Linked DNA regions of Homo sapiens: regions 1, 2, 3, 4, 5 and 6 are each reported to be linked to region 7. The links are microRNA targets in miRTarBase. Many come from high-throughput screens and were not tested one by one. Region 7 holds a microRNA gene; each other region holds the end of a gene's coding sequence.
Evidence for each region. Region 7 holds the annotated microRNA hsa-miR-3136-5p (CUGACUGAAUAGGUAGGGUCAUU, at 1,733-1,755, shown strand). A microRNA usually pairs through its seed, bases 2 to 8, with sites in the 3' UTR of a target mRNA and lowers its output. Matches are read on the target gene's strand: a 7mer-m8 pairs with bases 2 to 8, a 7mer-A1 pairs with bases 2 to 7 and ends in A, and an 8mer does both.

Region 1: miRTarBase lists DAAM2 as a target of hsa-miR-3136-5p. Seed matches in the 3' UTR shown: 7mer-A1 at 2,127-2,133.
Region 2: the mRNA of CYP4F11 is a reported target of hsa-miR-3136-5p. Seed matches in the 3' UTR shown: 7mer-m8 at 1,673-1,679.
Region 3: the mRNA of SLC25A45 is a reported target of hsa-miR-3136-5p. The part of its 3' UTR that is shown has no 7-base or 8-base seed match.
Region 4: miRTarBase lists NDOR1 as a target of hsa-miR-3136-5p. Seed matches in the 3' UTR shown: 7mer-A1 at 437-443 and 7mer-A1 at 1,404-1,410.
Region 5: miRTarBase lists MTPN as a target of hsa-miR-3136-5p. Seed matches in the 3' UTR shown: 7mer-m8 at 2,898-2,904.
Region 6: miRTarBase lists SERTAD2 as a target of hsa-miR-3136-5p. Seed matches in the 3' UTR shown: 7mer-m8 at 2,369-2,375.

Annotation. Positions count from the first base shown.
Region 1 is chr6:39,901,621-39,904,733 of GRCh38, reverse strand. It overlaps DAAM2 (dishevelled associated activator of morphogenesis 2), which reads right to left. Exons shown (of 25, transcript NM_001201427.2): 25 at 1-2,921. The coding sequence ends at 2,697. It overlaps MOCS1 (molybdenum cofactor synthesis 1), which reads left to right. Exons shown (of 11, transcript NM_001358530.2): 11 at 1-564. Among named protein-coding and RNA genes, the nearest start is that of DAAM2-AS1, 5.8 kb to the right of the region's middle.
Region 2 is chr19:15,910,934-15,913,933 of GRCh38, forward strand. CYP4F11 (cytochrome P450 family 4 subfamily F member 11) reads right to left here. Exons shown (of 12, transcript NM_021187.4): 12 at 1,444-2,976. The coding sequence ends at 2,799. It also overlaps the pseudogene LOC729654. Among named protein-coding and RNA genes, the nearest start is that of CYP4F2, 14 kb to the left of the region's middle.
Region 3 is chr11:65,373,650-65,376,762 of GRCh38, forward strand. It overlaps SLC25A45 (solute carrier family 25 member 45), which reads right to left. Exons shown (of 7, transcript NM_182556.4): 7 at 1,543-3,026. The coding sequence ends at 2,758. It also overlaps a transcript of FRMD8 not described here. Among named protein-coding and RNA genes, the nearest start is that of SLC25A45, 7.4 kb to the right of the region's middle. RefSeq lists an enhancer at 2,976-3,113.
Region 4 is chr9:137,216,247-137,219,246 of GRCh38, forward strand. NDOR1 (NADPH dependent diflavin oxidoreductase 1) reads left to right here. Exons shown (of 14, transcript NM_014434.4): 14 at 26-3,000. The coding sequence ends at 170. LOC122513141 (ring finger protein-like) reads left to right here and starts at 1,248. Exons shown (of 1, transcript NM_001395982.1): 1 at 1,248-3,000. The coding sequence starts at 1,751. The coding sequence ends at 2,356. RefSeq lists enhancers at 959-1,698, 1,699-2,438, 2,439-3,000 and a silencer at 1,118-1,295.
Region 5 is chr7:135,927,229-135,930,341 of GRCh38, reverse strand. MTPN (myotrophin) reads left to right here. Exons shown (of 4, transcript NM_145808.4): 4 at 330-3,113. The coding sequence ends at 416. Among named protein-coding and RNA genes, the nearest start is that of MTPN, 49 kb to the left of the region's middle.
Region 6 is chr2:64,633,360-64,636,452 of GRCh38, reverse strand. It overlaps SERTAD2 (SERTA domain containing 2), which reads left to right. Exons shown (of 2, transcript NM_014755.3): 2 at 1-3,093. The coding sequence ends at 526. Among named protein-coding and RNA genes, the nearest start is that of SERTAD2-AS1, 2.0 kb to the left of the region's middle.
Region 7 is chr3:69,047,646-69,050,758 of GRCh38, reverse strand. MIR3136 (microRNA 3136) reads left to right here and starts at 1,724; the gene lies at 1,724-1,801. TMF1 (TATA element modulatory factor 1) reads left to right here. Exons shown (of 17, transcript NM_007114.3): 2 at 2,197-3,113.

The sequences.
Region 1 (3,113 bases), not on the chromosome of region 7:
TTGGCGTGAAGGCATCCCTGGTAGAAGTCGGGGGAGATAGATAGTCACAGTTCCCCAGTTGGTGGAAATGGGATGGGAGTAGGGAGAGGCTGGAACAGACCCTTCCCCATTCACCTGGAGAATTTTCTCCTCCCACTGCCCTAAACACTTTATTTCCATCACAGGGGAGAAATGCTGCTGAGAAGGTTGTGTTTGTTAGGTTGATGACGAATTTTACATTGGCCACAAAATTAGCTAGAGAAACTTATCTAAAGGTGGCAGGAGCAGTGGGGAGGGCATGAAGAAAGCAAGACCAAGAAACAACCTATTAAGGACCAGCTCAGCCACCCCGACTGGGCACCAGCCCCTTCTTACTCAGTTGAGTATGAGTCCATGGTCCAAGGCACTGTTGGAGATCTGGCTACAGTGGCATCTAGCACCAGAGCCACTGGCCAGATGTAGAAAATAAATAGAAAAATATCTTTCTTTTAGAGTGAGAAGGCTGAGCTCTGGAACAACGTATTTGTGTCCTCTGTCAACAGTTGAACCAAATTCTGCTTTTCTGAAGATCAAATGTATCTTGAACAGCTTCCATAGTCCTTTTGTTTCCAGGTGCGTATCCAGTCTTCCATGGTGGGTGGGAATGCCAGACACGCTTGTGGAGCCCTCCCCTGTTCCCTGCCCCTGAGGGGGTTAGGTTGACATCAGCCTGGTCAGTTTGGGAGAGGACCTTTAGAGGCCTCACCCACAACCTCCCATCTTCCCCAACACTTGTCTTGCAGTGGGAGCTCTTGGGGCTGCAGATGCATATAGCCAAACTCTCTGCAGCTGTTCTGCCTGGAAGCCTTCATCTTGCCCTCACCTGGGTTCCAGGATGGCCTCTTCACACCTGTGTCAGCCAGGCTTGCACTTGCTCAGATCCCTCCCACCAGAACACACACACACCGCCCGCCCCCTCAAACCAACGCACATGCTGGGCTCACCGACCCTGTGTTTCTTCCCCCCCGCAGCTACTACGGTCCCAGCCCCAGGAGTTGGATGCAAGTGAAAGGCAGAAGATAGGCAGCTGAGAGTAGGCCCAGCTCACCAGTCTCCACTGGCAATAACCCTGAGCCAGGGATTAGGTTGGAAAGTGAGAAACACAGGGAAGGGCAGAAGGGCCAAGAGCTCATTGATGGTAGAGGTTAGGCAGGGCCAGTCTCAAAGAAGATGAAAGGCCAACTCGGAACGTGGTATTGAATAAGAGCCTTGATGGAGTTTTAGAAAAATTTTGTCTAGATACAGCCATCCCATCCACCAAGGCCAGCATGAGATGGACAAAATGGAAGGTGGCAGTGGATGGGAGGACCAGAAGGAACCCCTTGCAAGTTGGGCTGAAGAACCAAATTGGGTACCAGAAATGGGGTGGCCCCCCTCTCAGCCTTCCTCCTTGGCACCTTCAGGTGATGTGCTCCCCAGAGGATATCAGCCTTCCTCCTCCATCCCCATCTCCCCAGTTTCCCTTGCCTGCTCTGCTGTTCGCACCATCTGAACGCCTGAGAGGAGGGGCCACCCTTAGAGACAGCATGTTAATGTAGAGGGCAGCTCTGGCCCTCAGACCTCTCAGGAACCAACTCCCCAACGCCAGTGGACACATGGTTCCAAGTGGCCACCTGCAGGCTGGACAGAGGCTGCTGTGGCTTCTGCCTTGAAGCTAGTGTTAGAGAAGGGGTGGGAGGGCCTGAGCAATTTATATGAAGTAGAGAACTATGGGATGGAGCTAAGCATTCAAGTGCTGCCCTCTGCTGAGGGGCTGTAGGGGACTCCAAGGCAACATTTGAGGTCACTGTCTGGCTTCACAACAATGGCCAGGTGTCCAGGAGATGGGGACATGGGAGATGCCCAAAAGGCATGAGGTGTGGTGATGCATGAGGTCTGTCTTGAGCCCCTCGCCAGATTCATCAAGCACCTGGTAGTGAGCCATAGCTGTGGAAACCCAAGGTGAGTCTTCTAGGACTGTGGATTAGTAGACAGGATGGAGGTGAGGGTAGAGAAGGAAGGGAAAGATACTTAAGACATGCAGGGAGAGGCCAGAGGACTTGTGACATGGGAAACAGACACTGCTACTCTGTCCTGATGGCTTTGGTCCCTGCATCATCCTTCCAACATTGACTGTTCTCTGGAACCTACCAGAGCTGATCTAACTAGAATATATAATGCCTCCTCTGTTCCCATTCAAGAGGAAAGTTTGCCCCCAGGTCAATGTTCTGTTGAGCCTCCCCTTGAGAGAAGGGAGTCTGGATTCCCTCACCAGATTCCCTCTCAGGGGCTCCCTCCATCATTGCTCCCCGTGCTACACAGGAACTCTGGACAAGGCTGTGGACCTCTCCAGTCTAGATCTGGAACTGTTCTGTGCCAGCACATGGGTGCCCATGGTAGGGGATGGGGAGCAGGGCCCCTTCAGCCTGGGGTTACCTGGCCTGAGGCCATCCAAGGCAGCCTCAGAATAATACCTGGGGCCAGGGCACAGAAGGAATCATGTGAAGGGGAGATAAGAGGAGCCCCTTAAGGTAAGCGTGGGGAGACACCTGGTCCAGCCACACACAGCCCCCCATCCCAGGACCCAGCCCAAGGCTCTAAACCAAGCACCAAATGGTTTAAATATCACCACCTCCTCCACTCAGCCCCATTCTCACCAGTCCCTGTCTCCCGGCCTCCTGTGTGGCTAGTTCCCCAGGTCAATAATTTAGCCGGTTTATTGCCCGCTCCCGGGTAACTTCCAGGGCCTGGCTCCCTGATCGCTTGCGGCTGCGCTTGAGCTTGCATAAGTCCTTGTCGAAGACCTCCCCAGAGCGCAGGGCCGACACCAGGTCATCGAACTCTCCTCCCTCCTCCAGCGAGCTGCCTGCAGCCAGGACCTTCCGCTGCCGCTGCCACCGCTCACGTTCCCTCTGCTCCTTCAGCTGCGGGCGGGGGGCCAAAGATAGGAACCCTCTCAGGGAGAGGCGCTGAGGCCAGGGCAGCCCCCCAACCCTGGGCTAACTCCTAGGCCATGGTCATGCTGCCTGCCTGTATCTGTTGGCCCCACTTTCTTCCTGCCTAGGACATACAGGCCCCCAGCTTCACACCACTCTCTTCCCTCAGGCTGGGAAGAA
Region 2 (3,000 bases), not on the chromosome of region 7:
TACATGAAAGTTATTATTGCACTCTAGTACTTCTGTGTCTGACAGTTGTCCTTTGGACAAAAACTTTTCTGCCAAATTTCTGTCATTCAGTTTTGTAGTGATTGGCTGAGATGAACCTTCCTAAAGAAACAGTAATGAACTTGCGTAAAAGTTAAGCTGCTTCTGGTTTTCAAACCACTGCAGAATTTTCTCAGTCTTCTGAATAATGGCAGCAACAGCATCTTTTATTAAGCAGTACCCATTATGAAAAAATCCGAAGACTCCATCCTTTATAGCTTCTTTTGTTAAGCTTCTTCCATAATGTTGGTTTGTGTCTCATAGCTATGGGAATGAACAAGATAAACCCTCATGCCAAGCACCAAGAACCCAATCTCTTCCATTAATGGGTCCTTGCTGACCTATTGCTGAATTTTCTCAGATGAGGCAAAAAGGATCATAGCTTTTTTGCCCTGTCTTTACATCCATTATACAGGGCTTATTAAATTTATGGGTCACATTTTCCAGTTTTAGGTATAAATCGTTTGGGGCAGCGGGAGGTGGCCAGATGCCATAATATTTTGGCAAATATTGTCGTAGCTCTAGAAGAACACCATCGGTACAGTCAGCAGCATAAACCATATTATAGAATTCCAGCTCTCTTGGGCCCCTTGGAGGTGGTTGTAACTGTTTCAAAACTGTGCCATCTGGATGTTGCAGTATACCCATTTTGTCCTTCCCATACCTGTGCCCGGCCACCTGATGCAAGATGGGCACACAGCCACTGAGGAAGCGGAGTCTGCCGCCTGCCGGCTGCAGGGTGCCCTTAGGGGTGGCCTCGATCGCCGGTGGGGTCCGCATTTCTGGGGGACCCGGCGCCTCGACCCGGAGCGGGGATGGTGGCTCTCTTGCCATAACGGAGAACAGAAGCGGTAGGGTCAGCAAGAGCAGGAAAAGAAAAATAGGGGGAGGGAGGGGGCGCCGGAGAACCCAGGGGTCGCTCAGGCTCGGGCGCGAGGAGGCCCGGGGGTTCCCGCGGCTGGTGCCCGCTGAGGTGAGGGGAGGGGGCCCATGACGCCGCGGCGGCGCGGGCACTCCCTCTGCCCAACTCTCGGCTGAGCGCGGCTCCCGGCTCAGGCCCCTCTGCCGCCGCAGCCGCGGGCCCAGTAGACACAACCCAGCCGAGGAGCAGCAGCAGCAGCAGCGGCGCCCCGCGCTCCCTGGGGCCCTCCAGAAAGTTTTTTTATGGATATCAGCAATCTAATTCTACAATTTATATGGAGAGACAAAAGACTCAGAATAACCAACACAATATTGAAGGAGTAGAACATAGTTGGAGGACTGACAATATCCAAGTTTTAAGACTTACCGTGAAGCTACAGTAACCAAGATGTTGCGGTATTGGTAAAAGAAAAGAGAAATAGGTCAATGGAACAGAATATTAAAAGCCCAAAAAATAGATCCAAATAAATATAGGCAACTTATATTTGATAAAGGTGCAAAGGCAATACGATGGTCCCAAATAAAAAATATAATGTATTTGGAGATCAGAATCAAGGCCAGAGTAACCGAGTGTAGCAAGGGAAGGAGATCAGCTACAGAAGAGATTAGAGAAGTCAACAGGGTTTAGCGATGCAACATCCCTTAGGCTATGAAAAGAGATCAATGTTTGTAGCAGGATTTTATTTTGAGACACTGACTGAGGTTTCTCTCATTCTCCTACCACCTCACACAGTCAGGTACCTTCACCATCCTCAGGAAAAAAAAAAAAATATATATATATATATATGTGTGTGTGTGTGTGTGTGTGTGTGTGTGTGTGTGTATATGTATATATGTGTGTGTGTGTGTGTGTGTGTGTGTATATATATATATATATAATATATATATATATATACATATCTTATATGCACAGCCCTCTAGGAGAAGAGGTTGTTCAAGGAGCACAGATATTAGAATTTTTGCCTTTGAGTTCCAAAACACAGCCTTTAAAGTCGTGGTAGAAATAACGATCTTGAAAGACAACATTCTTTAACAGCCAGACTTTCTGAGACAGGAAATAATAATGGCTCCATATATTTAGCATTCATTGTGTGCCAGGCACAGCTCTGAGTCCCTTATATTGAGACCTCAGGAAAACCCTGATATAGGTAATGCTGTTGTCTCCATTATATGGTTGAGGGAACCGAGGCACAGAGAGAGGAATTAACTTGCTCAAGTCACGCAGCAGAGCCAGGACTTGAGCCCAAGCAGTCTGGCTCCAGATCCTATGCCTCTGAAAGTAAGGGAAGAGAGTCACAGAGAGAACGCACTGGGAGGGGGAGAAACAGGGGTGGGAAGTTGGTGGAAAAAGGAACTAAAAATTTCTGAGAGCCTGCCAGGGTGGAAGCTGCACCCCTTTCCCTTTGTTCTGAGCTGAGGACTCCAGTCTTGGGAGGACATTCCCAGGACAGATGAAGGGATCTGCCCCTATGGTTGTTTCTCGCTGAATCAGAGTCTCAGTCTTGCTCCTTAAACCCATTCTTAATCCTGTTCCCTCTCCTGCTCAAACACCTCCCAGGGCTCCCTACTGCCCACAGGATAAAGTTTTTACTTGGGCTCTGGGAGAACCCACTAAGGGCCTAGATGCCCTGTGCTCAGCCAGAGAGGCCGTCAGGGTTTTGGGTTCAGAGACGTCACCCTGCCTCCACCCACTCACCTCCCTTTCTTAGATCCCACCAGTCCCCAGGAGCCCCATGCTGGCTGTCAACGAGGCTCAAGCAGAGGTGTCAGCATAGTTTTGTTTCTGGGACTCTACAGAGGTGGGTGGGTGGGTAGGACAGTCACTGTGAGTTCGCACCCAGGGGCTCCACCCGCAGCCAAAGTCCACCCTCTGCGCGCAATATCAGCTCGGGTTTCCTGCGGGGTTCAGTGTGGGTCGGCAGGATGCGGAAGTGCAGCAGGGTGAGCGCCAGGACCACCTTCATCTCAGCCATGGCGAACGCCTGCCCGATGCAGTTTCTGGGGGCAAAAGTGAGGGAATCT
Region 3 (3,113 bases), not on the chromosome of region 7:
AATCAAAACTCACTGCAGCCTCAACCTCCCAGGTTCAAACAGTCCTCCCACCTCAGTCTCCCAAGCAGCTCTGTCTACAGGCACAGTGCCACCACACCTGGCTAATGTTTAAATTTTTGGTAGATACAAGGTCTCACTATGTTGCCCAGGCTGGTCTTGAACTCCTAGCCTCAAGTGGTCCTCCTGCCTCGGCCTCCTAAAGTGCTGTAATTACAGGTGTGAACCACTGTGTCTGGCCAGATGCTGCATTTCTAATAAGCTTTGCTCCATGGACCACACTTGGATTACCACTGACTTAGAAACTCACAGTACCTTACCCACTGAGTCAGGATGAAGCTTGCTAAACTGTTGCAACAAGGGCCTAAACTGTTGCAACAAGGACAGAGCCAGGTGCCTCACGCCTGTAATCCCAACGCTTTGGGAGGCCAAGGCGGGTGGATCACATAAGACCAGGAGTTCGAGGCCAGCCTGGCCAACATGGTGAAACCCTATCTCTACTAAAAATACAAAAACTAGTTGCAGATGGCCTCCAGCCATCTGCAGCACATGATCTGGTGAAGGAGAGCTCTGATGAGCACGTGACGTAGTATGGTCCCGGCAGGTCTAGCCCAGGGTGGTGTGGGGGGAGTTGAACTTAGGTGACTCGCAGAAGACCCCCATGTGCCCAGGTGGAGCAGGGTAGCCATGTGCCCAGGTGGAGCAGGGTAGCTAAGTAACTGGACACTGCGGCTGGAAGCTCAGAGGCATCTAAGCAAATTGTATGATTTACCCGCGGTGTGACCTAGGACAAGTTACATAATGTCTCTGAGCCGAGGCTGCCTCTCTATCAACTGTGATCATAACACTGTGATTGTTTCTACAGGGAGCCCCCAGTAAATGGCAGGAATTCAGGTCACCATGAGGTGGACTCACGTTGATCTCAGACCAGATAGGGACATTAGTGGGTACAAATGGCCCTTGATGCTCAATTTTGTTGTCAGTTAAAAGAACCCTCTCAGCCAGTTTTTAATTCCCACTGAGCAAGTGAGATGGGTAAAGAAAACAACAGTGGCTCACACCTGTAACTCCAGCTCTTTGGGAGGCCAAGGTGGGAGGGCTATCTGTGCTCAGGAGTTCAAGACGGCCTGGGCAACATAGTGAGACCTCCTCTCTACAAAAAAATTAAAAATTAGCCAGGTGCGGTGGCACACACCTGTAGTCCCAGCTACTCAGAAGACTAGGGTGGGAAGATCACTTGAGTCCAGGAGTTCAAGGCCACAGTGAGCTATAATGGCACCACTGCACTCCAGCCTGGGCAACAGAGTGAGACTCTGTATCTAATAAAAGAAAAAATAGAGAAAAAGAAAAAGAAAACAAGCACCATTGGCTGGGAGTGGGCAAAGCAGACAGACCCCCAGCTCCCAGCATCCTCCACTGCAGGTGACCTCGAGAAGGGTCAGAGCAGGAAAATGGGGGCTGGGAGGTTCAACAGAAAGCTGTGTGGCAAGACCAGGGAAGCAGGTGTGGCAGCTGGCGTGAAGAGACAGGTCAGGAGTGCAGTCGCATCATTTAACGAGCATTTATTGCACACGTCTGTTCAAGCACCAGGCTCAGGCTGGAAACCATCCAAAGCGCAATCCCTGACCTCAGGCAGCTCACAGTCCAGTGGGGAAGCCGAGAAGCAAATTAATGACTCTGAAGAAGCGCAGGCAAGTGCTATGATCAAGGCATGTGTGTGGGTAGGGTGTCTGGGAACCCCAAAGTCAGCCTCAGGTGGGGAGGTAAGTCAAGGAAGGGTGAGGGGACTGGGCTCAGCCTGGGTCTCGGAGGAGAGCGGGGCCAGCCCCGGGGATGGTAGAGTCAACCTGCCAGGCACTGTGCACTGCTGGCCAGGCCCGGCCAATGAGAGCACAACTTGTTCAGGGTCCAGGAAGCAACCCCAGGAGAACAAAGCCTCGTGGGGAGGGAGGAACCTGGAGGGTGGAAGGAGTTTGGGCTTTTCCTGAAGGTGATGAGAGCCACTGAAGGATTCTGGGGGAGGAGACATAGGGTTATCCTGGGTCATGGGGGAGAGAGCTTTGAAAGGCAGGGAGGTGGGAGGCCGCAGGGACTCTCAGAAGTGGAGTCTCAGAGCTCCTTAAGAGGTGAAGGCAGCCGGGCGCGGTGGCTCACGCCTGTAATCCCAGCACTTTGAGAGGCCGACGCGGGCGGATCACAAAGTCAGGAGATCAAGACCATCCTGGCTGACATGGTGAAACCCTGTCTCTACTAAAAATACAAAAATTTAGCTGGGTGTGGTGGCGGGCGCCTATAGTCCCAGCTACTTGGGAGGCTGAGGCAGGAGAGTTGCTTGAACCCGGAAGGTGGAAAGGCGGAGGTTGCAGTGAGCCGAGATCACGCCACTGCATTCCAGCCTGGGTGACAGAGAAAGACTCCATCTCAAAAAAAAAAAAAAAAAAAAAAAGAGGTGAAGGCACAGGACAGGAGCTGGGATGTCACCAGCACCACTTGCCAGCTCACTTGTGCCTCATGCTCCCTGTTTCACAGATGTGGGAGGCAAAGGAGTCAAGGCCAGCTACACAGGGAGGCTGCACAGGCCCCCTGGCTTCCGGCTCCCACAGGTGTCTGCCCAGCCCAGATCTGCGCGGGTGGGAGGCACCTTGGTTAGGAAGGGCTGAGCCTCTTGCACTGATTTGCAAGCTTTCAACCTGGCCTCCAATCTCAAACTGGCCTCCAGGCCGTGGGCCTGATGGGGAGCTGCTGGCATTGCCGCAGGGCTCATCCCCACCAGCGGAGGAGATATTCGTAGCTGAGGAAGGTGACAGCATTGACGGGAAAGGCGCGGGCACTGTTGATGGTGACCCCCCGGAAGAAGACTCCCAGTCCTTCCTGCCGGATGCTGCTCACCATGCAGTCCAGCATCCCCTGGTACACTCTGCGTCTCAGTCCATCCATCTGCATCCGGGACTTGATCATGTCTAAGGGCGTGGCTGCCACCCAGGAAGCAATGCCTGCAAAGCCCCCTGCCACCAGCACCGTGGCTGAGCCTGGGGCAGAGAGAGCCCAGAGCAGGGGTCAGACCCAGAACAGAGCATCCTCCCCAGACCCTAGTTTCCTTCCCCAGTCCCCGCTGG
Region 4 (3,000 bases), not on the chromosome of region 7:
CGCCTTCTGCGACCTGCCCCTCTAGCAACGCCAAGTCCATGCCAGCGGACGTCTCGGAAGCCCTGATGTCCATCTTCCAGGAGGAGGGTGGACTCTGCAGCCCGGACGCAGCCGCGTATCTAGCCAGGCTCCAGCAGACACGGCGCTTCCAGACAGAGACGTGGGCCTGAGGCCCGCGGCTGCCCGTGCCCCCTCTGACAGCCATCCTCCTGGGAGCCCAGGAAGGCATCCACGAGGGAGCTCCTGGCCAGCAGCCGTCATCCTCTCGGACCAGCCAGCTGGTCCTCTGGGAACAGCCAGCTCCCGAGCACAGCCGCACTCCTGTTGACCCTGGATCCCACCCTTTGAGCCTGACCCCACTGCAGCCTCTGCCCAGCCAGCCCTGCGCTCCCCCACCCTGACAGTGAGCTGTGTCCTCGTCCCCCCACCCCCTTCCCAGTCAAGGTGGTGGCCTGGGCCGCTCCACCTCACCGGTGCAGTGACCCAGGACGGCATCAGCAGCCCAGTGAGCACCAGGGGTGGCATAGGGCACCCATGAGGCTGCGCTGCACTCCTCTGCCCTGGGGCCACCTCGGCTGCTGCAGCCTGCCCAGCAGCACATTCCAGTCACTGCCCCCGCACTCCCACAGGGCTCAGGCTGGGCTCAGAGGCCACTGAGATGCCAGCTCCTTGAGAGCAGTGGGGGTGTCCCAGGCCAGAGCAGCCTCTTCCTCTCCTGGTCCCAGAAAAACCCTTGCAGTAAATGGTGGCCTCTGGGTGGTTACTTCTAGCGCAGGCTTCCTTCCTTCCTCTAGCTCCTCCCGGTGCCCTGGGTGCTGGGTGCTGGATGGATGGGCGTCCTCTAGCTCCTCCCGGTGCCCTGGGTGCTGGGTGCTGGATGGGTGGGCGTCCTCTAGCTCCTCCCGGTGCCCTGGGTGCTGGGTGCTGGATGGGTGGGCGCCACGGTGCACCCTTGTTGGGCTGCCTGTGCCCGAGTGGCCTCTGCAGCTCTTATGTCTGCCTCTAATGGGATGTGCGCCCTGACTGCCTCGTTCTTAAGGGCATAGTGGGTCGGCTAAGATCTGATCGCCAGGACTGCGTTCTGGGCAGGTGCTGGGAAGGCGGAACCAAGCCGTCCGTGCCGCTAGGGAGCCGAGACTGCCGGAAAGAGGAGCGGCAGGAGGGGGCGTGGTTGTGCAGCCCCACCCCCGGGAGGGGCTTTAGGCACTGGGAAGGAAAGTCCTGTTGGAGGAGTTCGGTGGCTGTTCACACCCGCCTCGCTGTCTTGGAGTCTTGATCTGTCGTCGGCGGGTCGCTGGCACAGGACTAAACATGGCTGAGGCTGGGCTCCAGCCAGATCTGGCTGGGGACAGCACCGCGTGGGCCCAGGATCCACCCAGAGCAGGCAGGCCTTGCTGGGGCCCCAGTCAAGTCCACTTCCAGTGAGGAGAGCCAGCCGGGAGGTCAGTGCCAGAGCTCTGGTGGAGCCCAGACCCTGCCTTCCCTGAGGGCCGCCCCTGTCGCCGCCCTGGGGTCCCTGTCCTCCTATCCTGACTCCTGCCCCAGGGCCACCACCCCTGAACTGTGCCCTGGGGCCCCCACCCTCCACCTGGCCGACTCCAGCTCTGGGCCTGTCAGTCCACCTGGGTCCTCTCTGGGCCCTGAGTGCCTGGACCCTCTGTGCCAAGCACCAGCAAGCAAAGGGGATGACCTTGGGCACCCCCAAGGTGCTGAGACTACAGCCAGTGAGCCCCTGCTGGGGGCCAAAGCCATGGAGGGTGCCTGGGCCCTTCCAACCTGGAAGGAGGAGGGGAGAGAGCAGGCAGCAGGGCAGGGGGAAGAGGAGGAGTGCCCGATCTGCACAGAGCCCTACGGGCCCAGAGAGCGCCGCCTGGCCCTGCTGAACTGTAGCCACGGCCTGTGTGTGGGCTGCCTGCACAGGCTGCTGGGCTCGGCCTCCAGTGCCGACCTGGGCCGGGTGCGCTGCCCGCTGTGCCGCCAGAAGACGCCCGTGCTGGAATGGGAGATCTGCCGGCTACAGGAGGAGCTGCTACAGGCCGACGGGCCCTCACGCCAGCCCCGCCGAGAGGCCCCTGCATCCTATCACCGCAACCCTGGGCCCTGGGGCTCCCTGGAGCACCGCTACCAGCTGCGCTTCCTGGCAGGGCCCGTGGGCGGCCGGGGCTGCCTGCCCTTCCTGCCCTGTCCACCCTGCCTGGGTGCCCGGCTCTGGACCCTGCGGGAGCGGGGACCCTGTGCCCGCCGCCTGGCGCTGCTGAGCCTGCTGGCCCTTGAGCTTCTGGGGCTGCTGCTGGTCTTCACGCCGCTCCTGCTGCTGGGACTGCTCTTCGTGCTCCTGGACCGCTCTGGCCGCTGAGCAGAGCCCAGGACAGCCCCGCCGCCAACAGGCCAGGGGGCCCAGACTGGCCCACGTCCCCATGCCTGGGTGCTGTGAGGCCTGATGACCAGGCTGGAAAAACCCAAGGTTGGGTCCAGGGCAGTGGCCTTCAATCAAGACCTCCCATTGCTGAACCCACAACCAGGGCTACCCAGAGGCCTGACCCTGCCAGAGTCCATGGCTGCACTGCTGCCCAGACACTAGCTGAACCCAAGGACACCAGCGCCCAAGGACAGCTCCTGGAGGAGGCCAGCCCAGCAGGAAAGTCTGTGAGCAGGACCCCATTCACCCTGCGGCAGACGGGCACCGTACTGGCCACGGGCTGACGCCGGCCACACTTCCCCTCCGAGGGCCAGCTGAGCACAGCAGGCATGAAAGCAAACAGAGATACAGCAGTGAGTCAGTTCCTTGGAGAGGGCAGGGACTCCGCCCACCCTGTGTTCAGATAAGGGCCAGTGTGTGTCCCTGAAGGTCAGGCCAGCCGGGGGAGGGGTCCATGCTGCGAAAATTCAGCCTGCAAAGGCTCCTCTCCCCACTTGATCAGGCCCAGACCAGGTGGGGGTTGGCGCTGGCCTGTGTTGCAGGGGACAAGGGCCCACCCAGGCCTTGGAACATAAGCTCTG
Region 5 (3,113 bases), not on the chromosome of region 7:
ACATAGGGATATTATTTTTAAAGCCTAATTAGATAAATATATCTAACTTGCTCAACGTGCTCTTCCTAATCATCTCATCCATGATAGTATAAATAAAAGCCAGTGATTGCCTGGGTTACAATTCTTAGTGCCTGAAAAATAATGTGGCATTTTTATAATTAATCCATAATGTTGCCAACTTGTTTGTTTTTCTGCAGTAGAATAGACTCCACTAGTAAAGGAATTTTTAATTCTTGATGTAAACATTAACCTGTGCCATGTGAGCTAGTCTTACATTCCCTTCCCCCAGTTGTGGGCTCATTTAATGAGCCCTTTCCTCTCTTTTCCAGGGTGCTGATAAGACTGTGAAAGGCCCAGATGGACTGACCGCCTTTGAAGCCACTGACAACCAGGCAATCAAAGCTCTTCTCCAGTGATGGATGGATGGACTGATAACTCCGGAAGAATGACTCTCCTGTGGCCTCACACTGCTGCCTGTCTGTCTGTCACTCTCTATCTGCCAGCTTCTTCAGCTAAATACTTTAAGAGGGGTGAGGGGAGAGAGAAATTCATAACAAATCCGACTACCAGAAAAAAAAAATTGTTTTGGAGGAGGGGCAAAAGGAACCATGATCAGGCTTTTACTGGGATTCCTGATCAAGTAAGCCTCTTCCCTTTCTAATAAAATATACACCTTATACCCAAGGGAGAGCAAAGACAAAATACACCAGTAACATTTGACCTTTTCAGCTCCCTAGCTAATTTATTAGATTGTGTTGAAGGTCTGATTCTACAAAGGCCAACTCTACATATTTGGTAGCCCTAACTGTCTGAGCAGTAGTGGCTGCTGTGATGTAAACTTAGGGTGCTGAGATAAGCAATTAGCTCTAGCCTTCTGCCTTAAGAATGCACTCTACTGGGGATTTCCTGGCATAGTTAAGAGCGCTGCCTATAAGGTTGGTGACCAAATCTTTCCTCGGTGACTTTAAGCTTTATGTGAAAGCTTAGTTAAGGTGAGGAGGGGCACACTCCTAAATTGCTGGATGACTGAACTTTGGATTTTCTCTCCCCTTTCACATGGATTTCATGTCTCTTTAGATAAAACTGACTAGTTTTATTTATAAAATCTTAAGTTTTGGAAGTCTAAAGGAGAAACCATTCCAGTATGCATATTTTTTTCTCCTCTAGATTCATACATTTATATAGCATTGAAACACTTTCAAACTCCTGCTGGTAGTAAAAGGGGATTTAAAAATAGAATCATAGCCATAAGCCTGTTAGTATCATATGAAGAGAGAACAGTTATCTTAGTACCTATGGATTTTCTTTATTTGCTGTTTGAATGGATTGACCTTGGTTATGTGTTGAGAATTAAGGAACATTCTTTGAAATGCCTCTCTCAGACCCATCTTGGAGGCTGATTACTTACTGCACCAAAGCTATCACTGGGGTGAGATTTACTGTTTGGACAAATTTAGCCCCATCCCTTCAAAAATACACTTGTAACCAGGTTTCCCAGAGTTGTTGATAGGCTTCTGCTGAACATATGCCAACCCACCTGCATAATATATTTTTGTTGCTTTTATAAATCATGCATTACATAAAGTGTGACAACTTCAAAATGTATTCTCTGTTCTTGGAATACAGTGCCCTAAAATGGTGTTCTTATGACCTGCAGAAAATATTTACACATATTTCCAAATATTTATTTCATGAGCAGTACAGCTAATTAAAATATATAAGCTTAAATTTTATATCTTACATTTAAAATATTAAGATTCCTTTGACTTGCCATCCATATAAGCTTGCTAAAAATATTAAGACCAAGTCATGCAATAATTGAATGTACCTCAAATTTTTAGGGGAGGGTGGGTTAGGGACTGATACTCAGATTGTGGATAATAATTGAATTGGTTTTTAAAGGCAACATAGCATTCTACAGCAGGGTTAATCTATTATCAAGAACAGTCACCCTGGTTAATAACAAGTTTTACTGATCAGTTGCTGGTTGGTTGGTTGGTTGGCATGTGGGTGTGTGGGTGTATAGGTGTGTGTGGGTGTGTGTGTGTATTTTTCCCCATGAGTCCTTTTTTTAATCCTGTGGCTTTTTCACTTACAACTAGCCTAACCCTGTAATTTTCCTACATCCAAGAAAACAATCACAAAGTAGTGGTTTAAATACTTTGTTGTATTTGGCTAATTTTGCTGTCTTAATGCAGCCTATTAAGAGTTGGGTTAAAAATCAGTAATCAGTACTTTATTACATCACTGAACTAAAATATGGAGACATCCTCATTGAAAATGGAGGGCACTCTATCAGTCTATAACTATCAACGTAGTGCAACAGGGTGTTTTGATACCTTTGTTTTCACCTCTTGACATAATGCTATTTAAAGGCTTGAATTTTTCCCTTTATATAATTTTCACCTTTACTTTCAAAGTGTTTTGTTGTAGTTGGCTATTGCAGAGAGTGCATTGTCCTATCATTCCTAAACCTGGTCTGCTTTCTACATTCATGGTATGGAAACCATGTGATTCTTTGTACAGTTTATCCTGATGTTGCTTGTAATGCAGTAGAGGCTATTTCGCCTTCGCTTTTCTTTCTCGACCTTTTTGTAAACCCTATAATTATGAAGCGATTGCTTGAGAAAATAACATATAAACATAGAATAGAATAGACTGACCAAGATGGTTCACAGTTTCTTTTTTTAACTAGGTTATTTATAATGTATTTCTGAACCACTTGGCAGACAAATTCACAACACTTAATGTTCATATTTTGAGTAAAGGAAGCTAAAACCATGTTTGCTTTCTGGTACTACATGCATTAGCGAAAGGTTAAGTAAGTTTTGTTCTCCACTGAAGTAATACTTAACATCTCAGAAAAAATTTTGCATGTTCTGTAGTTTTGTATTAAATCAGTCATTTCATATGCACTATATCAAGTACAAACAGGTAGTTTACCTGTTTATAGTAGTGTACTAACAAAGTCTCCCTTGCAGCTTCAGACTGTTATCTATAGGCTTATCGTTCAAATACAGCACTTGAATATCCCAAGTAGTTCTTCTACGCATAGCTCACCTTTCTAAACCCAGTTAAGCATGGAAGAGAGGTAGTAGGTAGGTGCAGTGTGT
Region 6 (3,093 bases), not on the chromosome of region 7:
TGACACGTTTTGCACCTCCCAGGCCATGCAGCCCACGGCTCCCACCAAACTGTCACCTCCAGCCCTCTTGCCAGAAAAGGACAGTTTCTCCTCTGCCTTGGACGAGATCGAGGAGCTCTGTCCCACATCTACCTCCACAGAGGCGGCCACGGCTGCGACTGACAGTGTGAAAGGGACCTCCAGCGAGGCTGGCACCCAGAAACTCGACGGTCCTCAAGAGAGCCGCGCAGATGACTCAAAACTGATGGACTCTCTGCCTGGGAATTTTGAAATAACGACGTCCACGGGTTTCCTGACAGACTTGACCCTGGATGACATCCTGTTTGCTGACATTGATACGTCCATGTATGATTTTGACCCCTGCACTTCCTCATCAGGGACAGCCTCAAAAATGGCCCCTGTGTCTGCCGACGACCTCCTCAAAACTCTGGCTCCTTACAGCAGTCAGCCTGTCACCCCAAGTCAGCCTTTCAAAATGGACCTCACAGAGCTGGACCACATCATGGAGGTGCTTGTTGGGTCCTAAGACCCAGGGACCCAGCGACTATGCCCACCCAGACCCCAGAGCGTTCCCATAACCCTGACAGTTCTCCACACTGTGCATGCACCCTTGCTTGCCTTTTTCAGAGAAAAAGAAAATTTTACAACAGGATCACACTAGTTTTTGCTTTGAGCAGAGTTGGAGTGCCTTCATCCAAGTATGACCACTTTTAATACACTTTTTTGAGTGGTTCCTCAGAGACCTACTACCCTGGTATAGGAAAGAATCCATTTGAAGACAATGTTGCAATGTTGAATGACAAAAATAAACAGTTCAAGTGAAGCACAAGGATTAAGTTGGAAAAGCTGTAAATTGCATGTGCATATTTGTCTATTTTTTCTATAAGTTTTATTGCAAGAGGTAAAGAAGAAAACTATATATATATATCTTATTTAGATAATCTCAGTACCTTTTCTGGCATTTTTGCCCTGTATAGGTTGACTTGGCAATTCGGCCTTTTTAGAGGCATTAACTACTCCTCGTAAGTGTTGCATTTACATGGCTGTTTAGAAAACTGCTGCCCAAATTTATTTTATATTTTTGTACAGATTCTGCAGTTTATGATATTGTTTTTCTAAAAACAAATGCTGTTTATACATATGAGATAGCTATTTTGATAGGATTTGCTCACATAGTTCCTGCAAACTTCAGATGTACAAGTTGCACTTGTACTTTTATAGAGTTGTAATGTTTTATATGTGTATGGTGCAAGAGAAAATTGGATCAAATCAATCTGCAGTTGATGTCCCCAAATGCAAACACAGGCACACACATGCACACACCCATAAACACACACACAGTGCTTTAAGAAAGGGCCAGGTGATATCACACCCAAATTTCACAAGCACTGACCCCCTGGCACCAACACCCGCCAGTACTGTGACTTCCAAAGCCAGAGCCACATGTGCTCATCAAACTTGCATTAAGCAGTTGGCGGGAGATGGCTGTGGAGCTGGGGGTTTAAGTGATGGTTCTCTTTTGCTCCCTCTTTTGAGGGTAAAGCTACTGTCTTTCTTAAGAGTGTATTTATGCCAAGTTTGCGCTTTTAATTGTTTTTATTTTGTTTTTTAATGAAAACCCAGATCTTTCCTTTTTGGCATAATTTTTATGATGACCTGAAATTTTACATCCGAACAAAATTTTACATCCGAAAAGCAACCAACTTCTTCATGGAACTCAGCCCTGTTGCAATGCTTAGGGCCCTTAAAGAAGAAAATCTCCCCAGAAGGCATCCATCATGTTGCTTAATTGTCTTCTGCAGCTTCCTTTCCCTAGAGCTTTCCCTGTGTTGCTAAGAGCTGAAAATGGCATCTTCGTGATCACCACAGTGAGCTTGGCTCGCCTCGGCCGGCCCGGGATGCACTCTTACAACATGTGTGACTCTTGAACCTGGAGTTCATCACATTACGTCACAGCTTCCCATCTGGTTGCTTTCCTGAGTCAGCTACTTCACACTTGTCAAGGCTGTTTTACCCCAAAACTCAGACAGGACTTTCTATGCATGTTTTCCCTCCTCCCCCCAATTCCCCCCCCCATCACCTTATCTCCCAGGACACACTTGAGAAGTAGCTTTTTATTCCTAGTGGTGTACATTTAATTTTAAAAAGGTTGCAATGTATCATGCTTGTTGCCGAAACTGTTTATGGCCTTCTTGTTTCAGTTTTTTCTTTTCTTCCAATGGTACTTTAGCTGTTGAGTGCAGGTTACAACCTATATTGTTATGCAGATGGCTTCTTTAGGAATAACTTTTATATTTATTTAAAAATTTTTAAATTATGGGATGTTTTGTTGTTGTTGTTGTCTTTGTTGTTGGTCATTTGTCAATATTCAGTCACCAATTCTGCTCACTTCTTGCCATGGATAAAATTGGGTCTTTCTGGCTAATTAAAAAAGACAACTTTATAAAATGGCACTTTAAGCAAGCCATAGTTAGTTTTATTTTTGTAATGCACATGGCAAAGCAAAGACGTTTGTGATGAAGGAACTGCTCATCTAAGCAAAAGATTTGAGTATGATATGATAAAGGCTTTCTACATTCTAATTTACTTTTTCCCCCCACTTGAATGTGTTTTAAAGGCTAATTATCAGCTCAGTAGAGCAGTGAGAAACTGATCAAATTGCACTTGTTCTCCTACAAGCAACCTCCACGCAGACACCTCGTACTGCTACAGGTGTGTCATTTCCTTTAATAGGACCAGGGACCATGTAACTGAGGTGAGGGTTGTAGTAGATGCTTCCAGTGTCAGTATGCCTGTTAATTTTAAGAGCTTCCCTTTCTTGCAGAGAACAAGTCTGCCCAGATTCCATGCTTTCTATAACTGGAGGACCTGGCAAACCTGCCGCATGCTGCACACATCTACCTACGTACACATATACAATAGTATTGATGATTCTGAACAATAACAGGGTAAAACAGTTGGTTTGCCATTGTTAAAAACTGATTTACAGTAACTTACAACAACTGTACTTTTGTTGGATTAGCAAATCATGTGTTTAAACAAATCCCATATGTTGGGCAACAGTTCAAATAAGCACGGAGAAGTGTTGCCCAA
Region 7 (3,113 bases):
GAGGTACCTCAGTTTAAGATATTTTGGTCCATGTGTGTATGTGATGATCCTCTTTACTTTTTACAAGATGTCATATAACCTTGCTGGAGTAACTCTGTTTTTTCATATGTGCCCCAGTTAATTAGAATTACTAAACTTTAGATAAGATAGAATATAGGTTTTACATATAAGGATATTTGTTTTCGGAAAATGCCCATAGTCTTCAGAATGGTATAATTTAGATGGATACCAAATAACCCTGGGATTATATAAAGTATTCTCCAAGAGGCAAAATTAATTCCTGTCATCTTTTGAATGTATTTAAATTAATCAGACATAATCTTGGTTGTTCATTTGCATATTTAATTTTGATTTTCTCTGGTTTGGATATTGTGCAAATGAATGTGTAGAACTATGCCTCCAAACTGAAGTTTTCTACATACTTTTCATCCTAACTGCCTTTGAAGTCATACATATATTTACATATATATATATTTGTTTTTTTGTTTTTTTTTTTTTTGAGACACAGTCTCACTCTGTCATCCAGGCTGGAGTGCAGTGGTGCCATCTCTGTTCACTGCAGATTCTGTCTCCTGAGCTCAAGTGATTCTCGTGCCTCAACCTCCCGAGTAGCTGGGATTGCAGGTTTGCGTCACCACACCTGCCTAATTTTTGTAATTTTAGTAGAGACAGGGTTTTACCATGTTGGCCAGGCTGGTCTTGAACTCCTGACCTCAGGTGGTCCGCCCGCCTCGGCCTCCCAAAGTGCTGAGATTACAAGCGTGAGCCACTGCGCCTGGCCTGAAGTCATATTAAAGGATAGATTCTACTATAAGGCTTGATAGTTTTTAGAAGCTTTTAGTTACTTGTGCTCTCTCCACCAACTTCTAATTGTGAATATTTTGTGAATATTTTGTTCAGCCACATTTTAATTTGAAAAAGAAAACATTTTTAAAGAAATGCTTTAAATACTTTAACGAATATACCATTTTTAAGATCCTGATTATGCCATTTTTAAAAATCAGGATTTTAGTAGTAGCTATTTGTATGACTGATATGATAATTAACTTTTTCCCCAAGAAAACAGTCATTTTCTTTGTAGCGCTTTTTTAAAAACCCTAGTGTCAACCACCTCTATGTCAAAGAGCAATAGTTCTTAAAAAAACACACATTTCTGAAATTTATAATGACCTTGTAATTTCTGACATAATTTAGAATTTGAGAACAAAACTTCCTCTTAGAGTGGGCTTGGAGAGTGGGATTTAGAGAATCAGCCTGTGATTAAGTGGATGAAAATGAATTTGTTCTCTAGAACTTACCATTCCCATCAGTTTAATATGATCTTCGGGAAAGAACATTTGTCACCATTATCTTGGTTTGAGGCTTTTGTTGTTTTGTTTGTTTTCGAGACAGGTTCTCGATCTGTCACCCAGGCTGAAGTGCAGTGGTTTGATCATGGCTCACTGCAGCTTCCACCTCCTGGGCTCAGATGATCTTCCCACCTCAGCCTCCTGAGTAGCTGGGACCACATATGTGGGCCACCAGGCCCAGCTAATTAAAAAAATTTTTTTGTAGGGACAGGGGTCTCACTATGTTGCCCAGGCTTGTCTTGAACTCCTGGACTCAAATGACTCTTCTAGTGTTGGGATTATAGGTGTGAACCTCCATACCCACTGAGTTCAGTTTTTGAGTGTTGCCCTTTGTCTAGCTCATAACTATATTACTGATATTACAAGTAAAAATTAATATGAAACTGACTGAATAGGTAGGGTCATTTTTCTGTGACTGCACATGGCCCAACCTATTCAGTTAGTTCCATATTAGTTTATTTCATATTGATAAGTAAAGCGTGTTATTATGAGATGAATCATAGGTATCTTGGACTTACTGTGGGTTATAAAACATATACTGTTACTTCCTTAATTTGTTGTGGGGAGGAATAACATACTCGCATCTGGTAGTCCAGGCCAGGCCCAGTCTTTTGTCTGTGCTCCTCCTTCCTCTCAGGTGGACCCACACCAGTTTTCTTCCGTAAGTCCCTGTATTAACTTGGAAACTACTTAATGATGTAGTAAGCAAGGAGTTTAGCAGGTGCAAATTACAGGTATTTCATAGGGTATTTTTTCTAAATTTATATTTATACTGATTTATAATGATGATTGAAATATTAATGTAACATATATGTGTTCTTTTTTAATATTTACTTTTTTGTTAAAGGAATAAGTTCCCCTGTCAGTGGAGGATGGGATACTTCAACCTGGGGGTTGAAATCAAACACTGAACCTCAGAGTCCACCAATAGCCTCTCCTAAAGCAATCACAAAGCCAGTTCGGAGGACTGTGGTCGATGAATCTGAAAATTTCTTCAGTGCCTTTCTCTCGCCAACTGATGTCCAGACCATTCAGAAGAGTCCAGTGGTATCAAAACCTCCAGCAAAATCACAACGACCAGAAGAAGAAGTGAAAAGCAGCTTACATGAATCCTTGCACATTGGCCAGTCAAGAACTCCTGAAACAACTGAATCACAAGTAAAAGACTCTTCTTTGTGTGTTTCAGGGGAAACTCTGGCAGCAGGTACTTCATCACCTAAAACTGAAGGCAAGCACGAAGAAACTGTTAATAAAGAATCGGATATGAAGGTGCCAACTGTAAGTTTGAAAGTATCTGAAAGTGTAATTGATGTGAAAACAACTATGGAAAGTATATCTAATACGTCTACGCAGTCTCTCACAGCAGAAACAAAGGACATAGCTTTGGAACCTAAGGAACAAAAACATGAAGACAGGCAGAGCAATACACCTTCTCCTCCTGTTAGTACCTTTTCATCAGGTACTTCTACCACCAGTGATATTGAAGTTTTAGATCATGAAAGTGTAATAAGTGAGAGCTCAGCGAGCTCGAGACAAGAGACTACAGATTCAAAATCAAGTCTTCACTTGATGCAGACATCTTTTCAGCTTCTCTCTGCATCTGCTTGTCCTGAATATAATCGTTTAGATGATTTCCAAAAACTCACTGAGAGTTGCTGTTCATCTGATGCTTTTGAAAGAATAGACTCATTTAGTGTACAGTCATTAGATAGCCGGAGTGTAAGTGAAATCAATTCAGATGATGAATTGTCAGGCAAGGGATAT